Linked DNA regions of Homo sapiens: region 2 is linked to region 1. Evidence: fine-mapped expression QTL. Tissue or cell type: tibial nerve. Region 1 holds a variant in brackets; the other region holds the start of a gene. All regions are shown on one strand. Distances are from middle to middle.

Region 1 (8,179 bases):
GGAAATAGAAGATACCGTGAGGTCATCAAAAAAAGGGAAGAAGGGGCTGGGCATGGTGGCTCATGCCTGTAATCCCAGCACTTTGGGAGGCTGAGGCGGGTGGATCACTTGAGGCTGGGAGTTTCAGACCAGCCTGGGCAACATGGCGATACCCCATCTCTACTAGAAAAACACAAAAATTGGCCGGGGGTCGTGGCTCATGCCTGTAATCCCAGCACTTTGGGAAGCCGAGGCAGGTGGATCACGAGGTCAGGAATTCAAGATCAGCCTGGCCAAGATGGTGAAACCCCATCTCTACTAAAAATACAAAAATTAGCCAGGCGTGGTGGCAGGCGCCTGTAATCCCAGCTACTCGGGAGGCTAAGGCAGGAGAATTGCTTGAACCCTGGGGGGCGGGGGGCGGAGGTTGCAGTGAGCCGAGATTGTGACACTGCACTTCAGTCTGGATGACAGAGTGAGACTCTATCTCAAAAAAATAAATAAATAGGCCAGGCAGGGTCGCTCACGCCTGTAATCCCAGCACTTTGGGAGGCCGAGGCGGGCAGATCATGAGGTCAGGAGATCGAGACCATCCTGGCTAATGCGGTGAAACCCCATCTCTACTAAAAATACAAAAAATTAGCCAGGCGTGGTGGTGGGCGCCTGTAGTCCCAGCTGCTCAGGAGGCTGAGGCAGGAGAATGGCGTGAACCTGGGAGGCAGAGCTTGCAGTGAGCTGAGACTGCGCCACTGCACTCCAGCCTGGGCGACAGAGTGAGACTCTGTCTCAAAAACTAAAACTAAAAAATAAATAAATTAATTAATTAAATTAGCCAGGCATGGTGGCACAGGCCTGTAGCCCCAGCTACTCAGGAGGCTGAGGCAGGAGAATCGCTTGAGCCTGGGAGGTCAAGGGGGCAGTGAGCTGCAATTGTGGCACTGCACTCCAGCCTGGGCGACAGAGCAAGACCCTGTCTGTCTCCAAAAAAGAGGAGGCGACAGCCAGGCACGGTGGCTCACGCCACCTGTAATCTCAGCACTTTGGGAAGCCGAGAGGGTGGATCACCTGAGGGCGGGAGTTTGAGACCAGCCTGACCAATGTGGAGAAACCCCATCTCTACTAAAAATACAAAATTAGCCTGGTATGGCGGCATGTGCCTATAATCCCAGCTACTTGGGAGGCTGAGGCAGGAGAATCGCTTGAACCCAGGAGGCGGAGGTTGCAGTGAGCCGAGATCGTGCCATCGCACTCCAGCCTGGGCGACAAGAGTGAAACTCCATCTCAAAAAAAAAAAAACAAGAGGAGGTGACAGAGAGACAGATGTACCTGAGGGATGAAGGAGATGGGAGGGAGCCCAGAGGATCTCAAGACGGTGGTGGGAATGGCTGGGGGGCTTGGGAGGGGTCCAGAAAAAGGCAGCTGAGTGGGTCCTGATGGCTGGGAAGCCTTTGCAGGGAATGGAGGCCAGGCCCAGGTGGGAGGACAGGAGGCGTGTGGGACCAGGTGTGGGCACCAGTGAGGAGGGAAGCTGAGGGAGGAGGAAGGCTGGGATGCTGGCTGGGCAGGGGCAGCGGCAAGGCGGAGTGGCCTGAGCTAGGTCCTCACTGCACTTGGTACCCAGAGATACCCTGGTGTGGCGAAGGCTGGGCGCTGGTCAGCCTGAGGGTCCCACGGCGCATGGCTAAAGCGTTCTTCCAGCCTCACTCCCTGGTCTTGGGAGCACACTCTCCCCTTCTCCTGCCCAACTCCTACACATCCTTCCAAGCCCACGCGCTGCAAGCCCACGCCCCCGAATCTCAGCGTCCCTGCCCAGGCTGCCGACACGCACGCGGAGGTGATGGCGCGGTAGCGCTCCTGGCCAGCGGTGTCCCAGATCTGCGCCTTGATGGTCTTGCCGTCCACCTGGATGCTGCGGGTGGCGAACTCCACGCCGATGGTGCTCTTGCTCTCCAGGTTGAACTCGTTGCGGGTGAAGCGCGACAGCAGGTTGCTCTTGCCCACGCCTGAGTCCCCGATGAGCACCACTGGGCGGGAAGGCGAGGTTCTGTGAATCCCCACACTCCACCCACGACTGCCCCCACAACCTTCCCGCCGGTTCCCTGGGTGCTGCACCAACGCGGCTGCCAACGGTGTGGAGGAGTCGAGAGATGCCTGGAGCCCAGGGCCTGCAGGCACTGTGCTAAGTGGTGCAGAAGTGAAGGCAGGCTCCTGCCTTCCAGAAACAGCCACTGCGGATAGCACAACACCTGCCTGTGTCTGGTCCTCAGAGCAGGGCTGTCCCAGCTGGGGCAAGGGGACCCAGGCAGCCAGGCAGGCAGAGCAGCTTGAGATCCATCAACCCTGAGCCTCCACCTGCAGCCTGGTGGCTGGGCAGCCAGACACGGCTTGAGAAGGCTCCTGAGCGGGGTGACCTTGGGCAAGTCACTTCACCTCTGGACTACTTTTTCCAAATGTGTGAACAGGAAGGCAGTCACAGGAGGAGGAAGTAAGAGCAGGCATGGCCAGGCACGGTGGCTCCCGCCTGTAATCTCAATGCTTTGAGAGGATGAGCCAGGCGGATCACTTGAGGTCGGGAGTTCGAGACCAGCCTGGCCAACATGGTGAAATCCCGTCTCTATAAAAAATACAAAAAGTACCCGGGCGCGGTGGCTCACACCTGTAATCCCAGCACTTTGGGAGGCCGAGGCGGGTGGATCACGAGGTCAGGAGATCGAGACCATCCTGGCTAACGTGGTGAAACCCCATCTCCACTAAAAATACAATAAAATTAGCTGGGTGTGGTAGCGGGCGCCTGTAGCCCCAGCTACTTGGGAGGCTGAGGCAGGAGAATGGCGTGAATCCGGGAGGCGGAGCTTGCAGTGAGCCGAGATCACGCCACCGTACTCCAGCCTGGGTGACAGAGCGAGACTCCATCTCAAAAAAAAAAATAATAATAATAATAATTAGCTGGGCGTGGTGGCTACTGTAGCCCCAGCTACTCAGGAGGCTGAGGCAGGAGAATCGCTTGAGCCCAGGAGGTGGAGGCTGCAGTGAGCCGAGATCGAATCACTGCACTCCAGCCTAGGCAACAGAGATTCTGTCTCCCCCCACGAAAAGAGCAGGCATCGCACAGGAAGGGACACGAGTAGGCAGCTGTCAC[G/A]GTTGTTGTGGTTTCTGGTCAGGGCATGGGAAGGGTCACTGCTCCAGGTATGTAAGTGACAGGACATGAGGAGCTACTCCCACCTCAACCCCCACCTCTCCTGGTGCAGCAAACCCACATCCAGCTTCGGCACAGATGGCTGAGTGGGAAACAGGAATGTGCCCTGAGGACGCAGCCCGGAGGAAAGAGCCTGCAGCCACCTCCCACCACCCCTGTCCCCAGGGTCAGGTCCCCTGCTGAGCTGCAGGGAGCTCCAGCCAAGGCTAAGTCCTCATTCAAGGGGCAGTCCGTGTGGCAGTCCACGTGTGTGCACAGCTCCTCACAAGGCTCCAACACAGGTATGCATTGTCCCAGGAGGGGGGTGCACAGCAGAGCAGCTTGCCAAGATGCAAACCCTGGCCCAGAAAGGAGTCAGCGCAGCGTGGACAGAACAGAGATGAGGGTTTGTGGGCAACAGCACCCAGGGACGGGGGCCTGAGCCCAGTCGACACGGGGTGTGCAGCAGGCCTGTCTCATGCTGGCCAAGGAGCATCAGGAACACTTTCCCTGAGCAGAGCAGGTGCCTGCTGGTCAGGCCAGGGGTGAGCTGCCTTGTAAACTGTTTCCTGTCCCAGCCATGGAAGCACTGTCCCTATGGGCCCAGCCGCCCCAGGCTCTGGGGTGGGGTCTGGGTGAGCTGTCCCCAGACCCAGAACATACCATGTGGGGAAGATCAGTGTGTGTGTGTGCACTTGAATACAGCCAACCAGACGCCCCAGCCAGAAGCCCCGTGGACCCCCAAGTGTGGGCCTTGGGCCCCGGCACCTGAGGGTGGGTTGGCTCAGTGGCTTGGTCATCCCTGGTCCCAGGGAGTTAGGGGGCATCCACTGAGGATGAGGCTTCCTTGTCTGGGAAGAGATGGGTATGGCTGTTCCTCCTGAGCTCGGGGAGGTGCTGGCAGCCAGGCTGAGCCCTGGCTGACCCAGAGGTCCGCTGGCCCCACTCGGGACCCCTGCTACATTGAGGGAGCAGGCCCTGGAGCCCACCAGGCAGCCCTCCTCTGCCCTTCCCCTGGCCACACTGTGGGGCTGTACCTACACGTTTGGAATTTTCCCTCTAGAAAACATTCTCTCCTGACCCAACTTCCTGCCTCGGGCACTGGAAGGTATCATCTACACTCACTCACTCCACCTCCTGTCCCCCAGTCCTAGAACTCAAACCAAGCACGCTTTCGCCCCCACAGTCAGTGTCAGCCTCAGCTACCCCCACTCCCCCGGGCCTGTGCAGCAGGCACCCAGCCAGCTCTCCCTCCTTCCCTGCCTGCAGGGGCTCCACACCCCGACTCCTCTCCTCACAGTCACTCCCACTCAGTCTCCCACTCTACCTTCGAACCTCAGGGAGCCTCAGGACAGGCATCTCTGTCCACACCCAGTCCCCAGGTGACCCCATCCAGGCTCATGGCTGTAAATACCAGCCATGGGCTGGTAACTCCTATATTACCTCTCTCCCTAGAAGCCCAGACTGGCGTGCCCATTGTCTCCTTCATGTCTCCTCAGGGGCCCCAGGCCCCTCATACCCAGAAGAGCAGAGCCAAGCTCCCGATCACTCCCTAAGCCTGCTCACCCACCGCTCACCTACCCTCCTTATCTTGGTTAACTTTGGCTTGGTCCTACCAGGCACTCATGCCAGAAACCTGGAGTCATTCTCGACTCCTTCCTTTCTCTCGCATCTCAGAATCAATCCTTCAGCACATCCGAAACAGATCCAAGAGAAGGGAGGACGAGGGGTGCACCCCACCATGTCTCCCTGGGCGATTCCATTCCAGACTCTCAGACCCTGGAAGGTATTGTCTGTGCGGTCCCTGTGTTCACGCTCATCACCAACCAAAACGCTGTCCTCCTGCAGCAGCCACCAGAGAGCGCCCGTGAGTGCCGAGCCAGGGCACCTCCCTCCCTCCTCTGCAGACAACCCTCCGTGGCCCCCACCTTCCGCAGGGGAAAAGCCACAGTCCTCCCCGCTGCCCACAGGGCCCTCCCCTCCTCCCTCCCGCCCCCCCCCCGGCTCACTCTGCTCCAGCCACACAGGCCTCCATGCTGTTCCCCCAACACGCCAGGTGCGATCCTGCCTCAGGGCCTTTGCACGGGTTGCTCCTGCTGCCAGAAACGCTCTTCTCCAGGCACACACCTGGCTCCCTCCCTCATCCCCTTCGTGTGGCCCCTTAAATGCCACTTGGCCAAGAAGGCCCTCCCTGCTATGCTACTAAAACTCTACTCTCCGAATTACCCTGCTCCCGGACCCAGTTCTTCCTCCGTCACTCTTGCCACTCTCTCACCTGTCAGGTGGCATTTATCTTTTGCCAGTCTGCCCCAAGGGCAGGAATCAGGTCCTGGCACAGTGCTTGGCACACAATAAACACCCAAGAAAATGTCTGTCAAGTGAACAAACAAAATGCCAAAAAGGCTGGCAGAGCCTCCCACGCATGCCGCCTGCCCCATACCTAGAGGATGCCAGGTCACCACCCTTGGGCCACAGGTGAGGAGGGCAGGATCAGGCAGCCCCTACAACCCCACCTGGTACCCGCTCTGGTTGGCTGCTTGGAAGCCAAGAATAACAAGAACAAGGAGAATATTCGATGAGCTTGTGCTAACAAAGCTCTTGATGTGCGTTACTTCGCAGAAGCCTCCTGTAGCCCATTTTTACAGATGAGGAAACTGAGGCTTGGATGGGGAACGGGGTGCGGGGCAGAGCAGGACCCTGAAGCTATGCATGTTTGTGGGCTCGCCCTCACCTCCCAACGGTGCTCCCCAAGTGACTTGTCTGGAGCCACCGCCTGGGAAGTGAGCCAGGCAGGATTTGAACCCAGGTCTTCTGCATCCACAGTCCAAGTTCTTCCTTCGCAACTCACTGCCACACTCACTGTCCTACCCCAAACCCCAGCACGTGGCTCGGGAGTCGTGGTTCTGCCTTATGGGGTGGGCATTGAGGCTCTGGGCACCCCAGCTCCCACCGCATAGGGCAGCCTGTCCCCCTGGGGCGGCCAGCAAACTCCTACTCATCCTTCAAGACCCCTCGGCTCAGACCTCTCCTCTCCCCAAAGACCACTGCTTGGCCTGGCGTGAAAGACCTAAGACAACGGGGCTGGCATTCTCTCACGTCACCATGGGTGCCCCGCACAGGGCTACCAAGTGGACTTCAGAGAAAGACAGAAAGATGGCCGGGTACAGTGGCTCATGCCTGTAATCCTGTAATCCCAGCACTTGGGGAGGCCGAGGCAGGCGGATCATTTGAGGTCAGGAGTTTGAGACCAACCTGACTAACATGGTGAAACCCCGTCTCTATGAAAAATACAAAAATTAGCCGGGTGTGGTGGTGGAGGCTGAGGCAAGAGAATCATTTGAACCTGGGAGGCGGAGGTTGCAGTGAGCCGGGATCGTGCCACTGCACTCCAAGCTGGGCGACACAGCGAGACTCCATCTCAAAAAAAAAAAAAAAAAAAAGAAAGATGGAAAGAGGTGGAGTGAATGTAGGCGTGTGGCCCAGCACCTCCCAACCAAGCCAGTAGGGATGAGAATCGGCTCCCAGGCCACTGGGGGCCAAGATGGACTCACTGTGAGGGCCCCCATCTACACCACCAACCTTAACCTCCTTTCCACGGCAGCTACGGGAGCCTGGCCAAGGCCAGGGAGGTCTGCTCAGTTCTCACGTCCTCAGGAAATAAGACAGGAAACTCGGGCCCTGCCCAGGCATTCCCGACACCTTCACACCATTCCAGCCTTGCCCCAGCTGTACAGCCTTAGTGGCTCCTCAGCCCCATCAGTTTGTTTGTTTTTGTTTGTTTGTATTGAGATGGAATCTCCCTCGCCCAGGCTGGAGTGCACTGACACAATCTCAGCTCACTGTACTCTCCGCCTCCTGAGTTCAAGAGATCCTCCTGCCTCAGCCTCCCGAGTAGCCGGGATTATAGGCGTGCACCACGACGCCCAGATAATTTTTGTATTTTTAGTAGAGGTGGGGTTTTGCCATGTTGGCCAGGCTGTCTCAAACTCCTGACTTCAAGTGATTCACCCACCTCGGCCTTCCAAAGTACTAGGATTCCAGGCGTGAGCCATGGCACCCAGCCCCATCAGTTTTGCCCTCAAGCACTTTGGCCAGGCTGGGTCCCCAGTGCTTTGCAGGCCTCAGCTGTCCACATTCTCAGGGCTGCCCCAGGGACAGATGTAAATATTATCATTCTCCCTGAACAGCTGGGGACACTCAACCCAGAGTGACCAAGTCAGAGCAAAGGCCAAATGGCCACTGAACAGATCAATGACAGGCCAGGTGCAGTGGCTCACGCCTGTAATCCCAGCACTTTGGGAGGCCAAGGCGGGTGGATCACTTGAGCTCAGGAGTTCGAGACCAGCCTGTCAACATGGCGAAACCCCGTCTCTACTAAAAATACAAAAAATAGGTGGGCATGGTGGTAGGCACCTGTAATCCCAGCTACTCAGGAGGCTGAGGCAGGAGAATCATTTGAACCCAGGAGGCGGAGGTTGCAGTGAGCTGACACTAAGCCACTGCACTCCAGTCTGGGTGACAAAACAGGTGAATGGCAAAGAGGCTGAGCTGCCCAACCAGTCCCTGGCACTGGGTGCCCGATGCAGAGAGGTGGCCAGCGGGGCAGTGGCGGGCTGGTCCAGGATGCAGGCTGGGGATGAAAACTTCATTGTCTAGGACACAAGCAATCTGTTGTCTTGGGGAAATAAAGAGCCCTTGAGGACACAGCTCCGAGCATTTCCACAGAAGTTGGTGGCTTCACTGGCTGGGAAGCGACCCCCCTACCCCAGACACGCCACTTGGCTGACAGAGCAGGCAAGCCCGGTTGGCAAAAACAAAGAACTGGCACCTCTGAGAAGTCCTAGGTGCCCTGGCCTGCCCCATGACAGTGTGGTGGCCCTGGGGGCCCAGACCCTAATGCTCAGGCAGACTGAGAGACTCTTCAGGGGAATGGTGCCCCCATTCCGGCAGAGCCTGGCGGAGCCAAGCAGTGCCCCCATCCCTCCCCTGGAAGCTGGTCCTAAGCATCCTAGGCCCCAGGGACCG
Region 2 (8,170 bases), 34 kb after region 1:
CGCCCCCAGCCCAGCCGGAAAAGTAGGGGAAAGGTCGAAATGAGTCTGCACGGTGGGGGTGGGGGCGGGCCCAGAGTGACCAGGAAGACGCTTTCCGGCCCCTCAGGCATCTCCCCTTTCCCCTACTTTCCTCCCATCCAGTAAGGATGGGCACGCGGCCAAACCACCAGTGTGGCTTCCATGAATGCCAGCTGTTCGCCTTCCCAGCTCTGAACTTTCTCCTACTTGGCGGGCCTGAGCCAAGAGTCTGGGAGTCCCGAACCCACAGAACCCCTGCCCCCTTCCACCGCATTTCCCAGCCAGGACTTGTGCCTTCCCCCGTCACCCTCCAGAAGCCCCTCATCCTGGGATGGTGGCTTTGGGAGGGTGGACAGGACCCTGACCACGCTGAGATGCTAGCCTGGCGGGGTTGGGGGCGGGCAGCACGGAGGTGGGAAGGAGCGGGAGCTTGGGGAGGAGAGAACCCTCAGGTCTACAGTGCTGGAAGCCTGCCACTGACCCTAGGGTGTGAGAGGGGGATCCAAACTTTCACCCAGTTGGCTGTGGACAGCCACAGATGCAGGGAAGGATGAGGACCACAGAGAAACCGTGTGGGGCCGTGAACTTAGAGAACCGCGAGTCTGCATCGGACACACGTGGACATGCTGTGGTTCGAGATGAACGGAGATTTGGGAATAAAGCACCTACAACTTGTGGTGGCAGCAAAAGCCCACTTTCTGCGGTGGGGAGGGGGCCGGCGGGGGCGGGGAGGGAGGAGGAGAACAAGAGAGGAAGGAGGAAGAGGGGTCAGGGACCTGGAGCATTGGATTTGTAAGATACAAGAGTGTTTCTGGTCTGGGAGCTGGGGGTTCCCAGCCCTAATTCCCACATACCCCAAGACATTGTGGAGGGCCCAAATCTACAAACACTACTACCTGGCACCCCCTCCTCCATGACACCCTCCCCTAGAAGGTTCTAACCTTCAGGATGGCACCCCGAACCCCATTTCTACCTTCTCCAGCACCCCTGCAGCTCAAGTCCCTCAAGACCTCTTTCTCCACCTCTGTTCCAATCAGTGATCAGCAGGGCTTCAGGGACAGCCCACTGGCTTGCAGAGGAGAAGGGTTGGGTGGCCTGGCTGGGCCAGGTCAGGGCTGAGGAAGGAGGTGCTCCCATCAGCTTTGACCCAGAGACTGGTGAGCCCTCAGGGACTCCAGGCCAGGACATCTTCTCCTTAAGGTGGACCTGACAAGGAGAGGACCAGCAATGGCAAGTGGCGGGGTAGGGGTGGCCACCGGAGAGCATCGAGGGGCAGACACTCACGGTGCAGGCGGCTGACATTGTGAGCCGGGTCAACTGGCTGGGCCATCTCGGGCAGCCTCTTTCTTCGGGCAGGCTTGGCCACCTCATGGTCTAGGTGCTTGTGGTCCAGGAGGCCAAACTAGGATGGGACGGGAGGAGGGTGTCAGGTCCTGCCTGGCCCCACGTCCCCAGCCACACGTCCAGTTCTCACCACCTCCCTCTCAACCTGGGGTCCAGCTATCAGAGGGACCTTTTCTCCCTTGATCCTAGGGTTACCTGGCTTTGCAGATGCTGAATTCGCAGGTGCTGCTTCTCCAGGTGCCGCTGCTGCTGGGCCACCTTGTGGAAGAGTTGCTGGATCCTGCTGTTCTGAGCCTTGAGTTGTGTCTGGGGAGGGGTGAAAACCTTGGTGAGGACCCAGCTTGCCTACCCCAACCTCTTAATTCATCCACTCATCCATCCTTCCAAATCTCCATCCGCTGAGGCCAGGCAAGGGAGTCTTTCTTTTTTCTTTTTTTTCCCAATGACGGGGTCTCGTTCTCTCGCCCAGGCTGGAGTGCAGTGGTGCTGTCACAGCTCACTGCAGCCTCCAACTCCTGGGGTCAGGCGATCCTCCTGTTTTCAGCCTCCTGTGTAGCTGGGACTACAGTCATGCAGCTCTATGCCTGGCTTATTTTTTATTTTTTCAGACAGAGTCTCGCTCTGTCACCCAGGTTGGAGTGCAGTGGCGCAATCTTGGCTCACTGCAACCTCTGCCTCCCAGACTCAAGTGATTCTTGTGTCTCAGCCTCCCAAGTAGCTGCCACCACACCTGGCTAATTTTTGTATTTGTATTTTATTTTATTTATTATTATTATTATTTTGAGATGGAGTCGAGCTCTGTCGCCCAGGCTGGAGTGCAATGGCATGATCCCGGCTCACTGCAACCTCCGCCTCCCGGGTTCAAGAGGTTCTCCTGCCTCAGCCTCCCCAGTAGCTGGGATTACAGGCGCCCACCACCACACCCAGCTAATTTTTGTATTTTTAGTAGAGACGGGGTTTCACTGTGTTGGTCAGGCTGGTCTTGAACTCCTGACCTCAGGTGATCCACTGGCCTCGCCCTCCCAAAGTGCTGGGACTACAAGCGTGAGTCACCGCACCTGGCTTTATTTTTATTTTATCGCTATTATTTTTTTGAGGAGTCTCACTCTGTTGCCCAGGCTGGAGTGCAGTGCTGCGATCTCGGCTCACTGCAACCTCTGCCTCCCGGGTTCAAGAGATTCTCCTGCCTCAGCCTCCCAAGTAGCTGGGATTACAGGCATGCACACCATGCCAGGCTAATTTTTTGTATTTTTAGTAGAGACGAGGTTTCTCCATGTTGGCCAGGCTAGTCTCGACAGCAGGTGGAGGCTCCGTGAGCCACTGCGCCCGGTCGTTTTTTAATTTTATATTTATTTTATTTTATTTTATTTATTTTGTGTGTGTGTGTGTGTGTGTGTAGAAGAGACGGGGGTCTCGCTATTTTGCTTTAGGTGGTCTTGAATTCCTGGCCTTGAGCGAACCTCCCTCCTCGGCTTCCTAAGGGGGGAGCCCATCCCTTGACGCAGGGAAGCCCAGGGAGCCACAGTTGCGCACCCCGCCCCCACGCCCCACTCCTGTCCATACCCTTCCAAGCCAGGAGAGCCACTAGGGGCGCGGAGAACCAGCCCTGGGGACACGTACCTGCAGGCTGTGAAGGACCTCAGGGTCCACCCGGCTCTCAGGGGCTAACGGGAGGTCGGTGGACCCCTCGGTTCCCTGACAGGCGGACCCGCACGCGCTCAGGCGCCGCTCCAGCGCGCTCAGCTGACTGCGGGTGCGCTCCGCGTGTTCGCGCAGCCCCTGGCCGAGCTGCAGGAGTCCGTGCGCCAGGACATTCATCTCGTCCCAGGACGCAAAGCGCGGCGACTTGGACTGCACGGGTCCGCCCTGAGCGCTCAGTAGCACGGCGGTGGCGGCGCAGAGCATCAGGGCTGCCCCGGCCGTCGGAGCACCGCTCATCCTCTTAGGTAGCCTGGGAGCGGGGATTCGGGGACTCTCGGGGACGTTGGGGTTCCAGGTGCGAGGACTGGAGACGCGGAGGACCGGGGGTAAGACCCGCTTGGTTGCAGAAGCCGCTGGAAAGAATCGGATCACAGTCGTGTGAGGATCCGCTCAGCTCGGCTTCTCCCCGCCGCGCCCGAGGACGGTTTTTATAAGTTGGGTGCGGAGTGGGCGGAGGAGTCTTGGAGGCGGGGTGCGGGGAGTGCTGGGGGCAGGGCCTGTGGCCGGGGGTGGGGTCCTGTCCTCTGGAGGCCTGGTAGTCTGCGGGCTGGGGGATGCCCTGGGGATGCCAAACTGTGGCTCTCCCGCCCCCGCTCCAGGCTCAGGCAGGCCTTCCTCTACGAACCGTGGGAGACGTGACTCTTCTTTCCCCCACGGTGCCCGCCTCTAGTGTGAAATTGCAAGCCCCCTATTCCGCCCCCGCCTTACCCAGTGGCGGAGAGGGCGCACGCTTGAGGTCAAGACTTCCAGACCAGCCCGGCCAACATCGTGAAACCCAGTCTCTACTAAAAATACAAAAAAAAATTAGCCGGGCTTGGTAGTGCGCGCCTGTAGTCCCAGCTACTCGGGAGGCTGAGGCAGTAGAATCGCTTGAACCCGGGAGGTGGAGGTTGCAGTGCGCCGAGATGGCGCCATTGCGCTCCAGCCTGGGCGACAGAGCCAGAGTACGTCTCAAAATGAAAGAAGAGAAAAGAAAAGAAAAGAAAGAAAAGAGAGAGAAAGAAGGAAAGAAGGAAGGAAGGACGGAAAAAGAAAAGAGAGAGAGGTAGGGAGGGAGGGAAGAAGGAGAGAGAGAGAGAAAAGAGAGAGAGAAAGGAAAGAGAGAAAGAGGAAGGAAGGAAGGAGGGAAAGAAAGGAAGAAGGAAAGAAAGGAAGGAAAAGAAAAAGAGCTGAGTTCAGCGGAGCCCGGAACTCACCAAAAGTCCTTGCCTTGCGGAGGCTTCGTGTGACCTCCATCCCAAGACCAGGAGAGACTTTTCTGGGCTCGCATGTTCCTTCCCGTGAAAGGGTTCGTCATCGCAGCTGTGTTTATGAGATTCTTTGACTTCCATTTCTCCCCTGAGCCCGAAATTATGAGTGCCTTAGCGGCAGGACTTGGATCAGGGCCTCACCCCCATAGCCTACCCTCTACCGCCAGGGTCTTTAATGTCCTGAGCTTTGCCTATAATAAAGCAGGAACTTAGAGAACAGAAAGAGGAGACACAAGGAAGGGAGGAACCAGGGCGGTCGCCCATGACTGTGGTCGCAGCTACTTGGGAGCCTGAGGTGGGAGGCTCACTTGAGCCCAGGAGGTAGAGGCTGCAGTGAGCCACAATGGTGCCACTGCACTCCAGCCTGGGCAACAGAGTGAGATCCTGTCTCTAAAAAAGAAATAAAATAAAAGTCTGTGGCCAGGCGCGGTGGCTCACGCCTGTAATCCCAGCACTTTGGGAGGCCGGGTGGTGGGAGGGGGGGGGGGGCGGATCACCTGAGGTCAGGGGTTCGAGATCAGCCTGGCCAACATGGTGAAACCTCGTCTCTACTAAAAATAAAAAATTAGCCGGGTGTGGTGGCACGTGCTTACAGCTACTCGGGAGACTGTGTCAGGAGAATCGCTTGAACTCAGGAGACGGAGGTTGCAGTGAGCTGAGATTGCACCACAGCACTCCAGCCTGGGTGACAGAGTGAGACTGTGTGTCAAAAAAAAAAAAAAAAGTTTCAGACATGGAAGACCTTCCTCTTTCTCTCCCTCATTCATTCATTCACTCATGCACTGAACGAAGGTGCTGCTGCCCTCTAAGCCCAGCCCCTGTATGTTTGAAGTTCTCAGGCAGGTGGAGATACCCCAACATTCTGAGCCTGGGGTAGGGATAGAGTTGGGACAAAGGAAGTACTGAGTGAGGCTAAAGGGCTGGACCACATTCATTCCACAGGGCTAAGTGTTCATTCAAACTTGCACCGATCTCCTCTGCCTCTTCCCTACCCATTCCCCTATACCCTGTCAGGAAGGGGAGGCTGGCACAGAAAACCAGCCTGCCAGGAAGAACTCGGGGCAGGTTGGCTCAGAGCACTGGCAAGGAGAAGGGCATTGACTCAGCAGGGCTCCAAGCCAGCTCATTCTCTGGAATCTGAAACTGCACACCCAAGGGCTGACGTGCAGGCTGCCACTCATACACTTGGCCCCGTCAGCTGGGCCAGATGCCAGGACAGCAAATCCCTCCCAGCAGCAGTGGACAGGAAAGGGAGGGAGGAAAACCCCAGTGAGGAGTAGGTTCAGATGGTCACCGTCTGGCCTGTCCACCCCCAAGCCCCCAGCCTCTCTCTGAGTAGGGACACAGCTATCCCAGGCTATCCCAGAATGCAAGCTCCTCCTCTTCCCCACCTTCTTAAACTGAGAGAACTGATCAATTACTTCCCCAACCTGATGACCTTTTCATGATCTGATTTTCAGGGACTTCTTTGGAGCCATGTGTCCCACAGCACAAAACACATCACAGACCCAGGGTCTTAAGGGCACCTGCTGTGAGCAATCTACAAAAGAGTCTATACTGTCGCCTCAAGTTGGCTCTAGATTTTATTCTAAAAACTGCTCTTTATTTTTTATTTATTTATTTATTTATTTATTTATTTATTTATTTTTTGAGAAGGAGTCTCGCTCTGTCGCCCACGCTGGAGTGCAGTGGCGCAATCTCGGCTCACTGCAAGCTCCACCTCCCGGGTTAGTGCCATTCTCCTGCCTCAGCCTCCCGAGTAGCTGGGACTACAGGCACCTGCCACCATGCCCAGCTAATTTTTTGTATTTTTAATAGAGACAGGGTTTCACCATGTTAGCCAGGATGGTCTCGATCTCCTGACCTCGTGATCCGCCCGCTTCGGCCTCCCAAAGTGCTGGGATTACAGGCATGAGCCACCGCGCCCAGCCTATTTTTTATTTTATTTATTTATTTTTTTGAGATGGAGTTTCCCTCTTGTCGCCCAGGCTGGAGTGCAACGGCGCAATCTCCGCTCACTGCAACCTCTGCCTCCCAGGTTCAAGCGATTCTCCAGCCTCAGCCTCCCGAGTAGCGGGGATTACAGGTGTGCACCACCACACCTGACTAATTTTTTGTATTTTTAGTGCAAACGGGGTTTCACTATGTTGGCTCTGCTGGTCTCAAATTCCTGACCTCAGGTGATCCACCTGTCTCGGCCTCCCAACGTGCTGGGATTACAGGTGTGAGCCACTGTGCCTGGCCTAGCCTTTTTTTTTTTTTTTTTTTTGAGACAGAGTCTTGCTCTGTTGCCCAGGCTGGAGTGCAGTGGCCTCATCTCGGCTCACTGCAAGCTCCACCTCCCAGGTTCCCGCCATTCTCCTGCCTCAGCCTCCTGAGTAGCTGGGACTACAGGTGCCCACCACCACGCCCGCTAATTTTTTGTATTCTAGTAGAGGGGGTGGGGTTTCGCCATGTTGCCCAGGCTGGTCTCAAACTCCTAAGCTTAGGCTATCCACCACCTCAGCCTCCCAAAGTGCTAGGATTACAGGCATGAGCCACCACGCCCAGCCCTGTTTTATGTATTTTTTTTTTTTTTTCTGAGATGGGTCTCACTCACCCAGGCTGGAGTGCAGTGTCACAATCACAGCTCACCGCAACCTCAAACTCCCAGGCTCAAGTGATCCTCCCACCTCAGCCTCCCAAGCAGCTGGGACTATAGGCATGTGCCACCAGACCTGCCTAATTTCTGTAGATTTTGTAGAGACAGGATTTTTGCCGTGTTGCCCAGGCTGGTCTTGAACTCCTGAGCTCAAGGGATTCACTCGCCTCGGCCTCCCAAAGTGCTGGGATGACAGGTGTGAGTCACTGTGCCTGGCCAAAAACTGACCTTTAGAATGTGGCCTCTTACCCAGCAAAGACAAAGTCATCCTGATCAATTGTTCCTGGAGCACCTACTATATGCCAGGCACTGTACTGGGGCGATCACGGTGGGCAAGACCGGGTCTCCAATCCCAACGCGTGGGCTACTTTGGCCAACATAGTTAAAAATTGTTAAAATGACCAATTTTATATTATGTATATTTCTTTTTTTCTTTTTCTTTTTTTTCTTTTCTTTTCTTTTTTTTTTCTTTTTTTTGAGACAGAGTCTTGCTCTGTCGCCAAGGCTGGAGTGCAGTGGTGCAATCTCTGCTCACTGCAACTTCCACCTCCTGGGTTCAAATGATTCTCCTGCCTCAGCCTCCCGAGTAGCTGGGATTACAGGTGCCCACCACCACGCCTGGCTAATTTTTGTATTTTAGTAGAGACGGGGTTTCGCCATGTCCAGGCTGGTCTCTAACTCCTGACCTCAGGTGATCCGCCTACCTCGGCCTCCCAAAGTGCTGGGATTACAGGTATGAGCCACTGCGCCCAGCCTGTTATGTGTATTTCACTACAAATGTAAATGCCATTAAGCTAGGCAAGGTGGCTCATGCTTGTAATCCCAGTACTTTGGGAGGCCAAGGTGGGAGGACTGCTTGAGCCCAGGAGTTCAAGATTGGGTAACATGGCAAGACCCTGTCTGTACAAAAAATTTAAAAAATTAGCTGGGGCCAGGCTGGGCACGGTGGCTCATGCCTGTAATACCAGCACTTTGGGAGTCCAAGGTGGGCAGATCGTGAGGTCAGAAGTTCGAGACCAGCCTGACCAACATGGTGAAACCCGGTCTCTACTAAAAATGTAAAAATTAGCCAGGCGTGGAGGCGCGCGCCTGTAATCCCAGTTACTCGGGAGGCTGGGGCAGGAGAATCGCTGGAACCCGGGAGGCAGAGGGTGCAGTAAGCAGAGATTGCGCCACTGCACTCCAGCCTGGGCAACAGGGCGAGACTCTGTCTCAA

Evidence for each region. PIP is the estimated chance that this variant, and not a neighbour inherited with it, causes the effect.
Region 2: ANGPTL4 starts here. The variant in region 1 is fine-mapped to the expression of ANGPTL4 in tibial nerve (GTEx, PIP 0.93).

Annotation. Positions count from the first base shown.
Region 1 is chr19:8,393,687-8,401,865 of GRCh38, reverse strand. RAB11B (RAB11B, member RAS oncogene family) reads right to left here. Exons shown (of 5, transcript NM_004218.4): 2 at 1,808-2,003. Among named protein-coding and RNA genes, the nearest start is that of RAB11B-AS1, 7.1 kb to the right of the region's middle. RefSeq lists a silencer at 5,118-5,167. The variant G/A (reference allele first, on the strand shown) is at 3,119.
Region 2 is chr19:8,359,452-8,367,621 of GRCh38, reverse strand. ANGPTL4 (angiopoietin like 4) reads right to left here and starts at 3,467. Exons shown (of 7, transcript NM_139314.3): 1 at 2,983-3,467; 2 at 1,558-1,668; 3 at 1,303-1,420. The coding sequence starts at 3,300. RefSeq lists an enhancer at 3,801-3,850.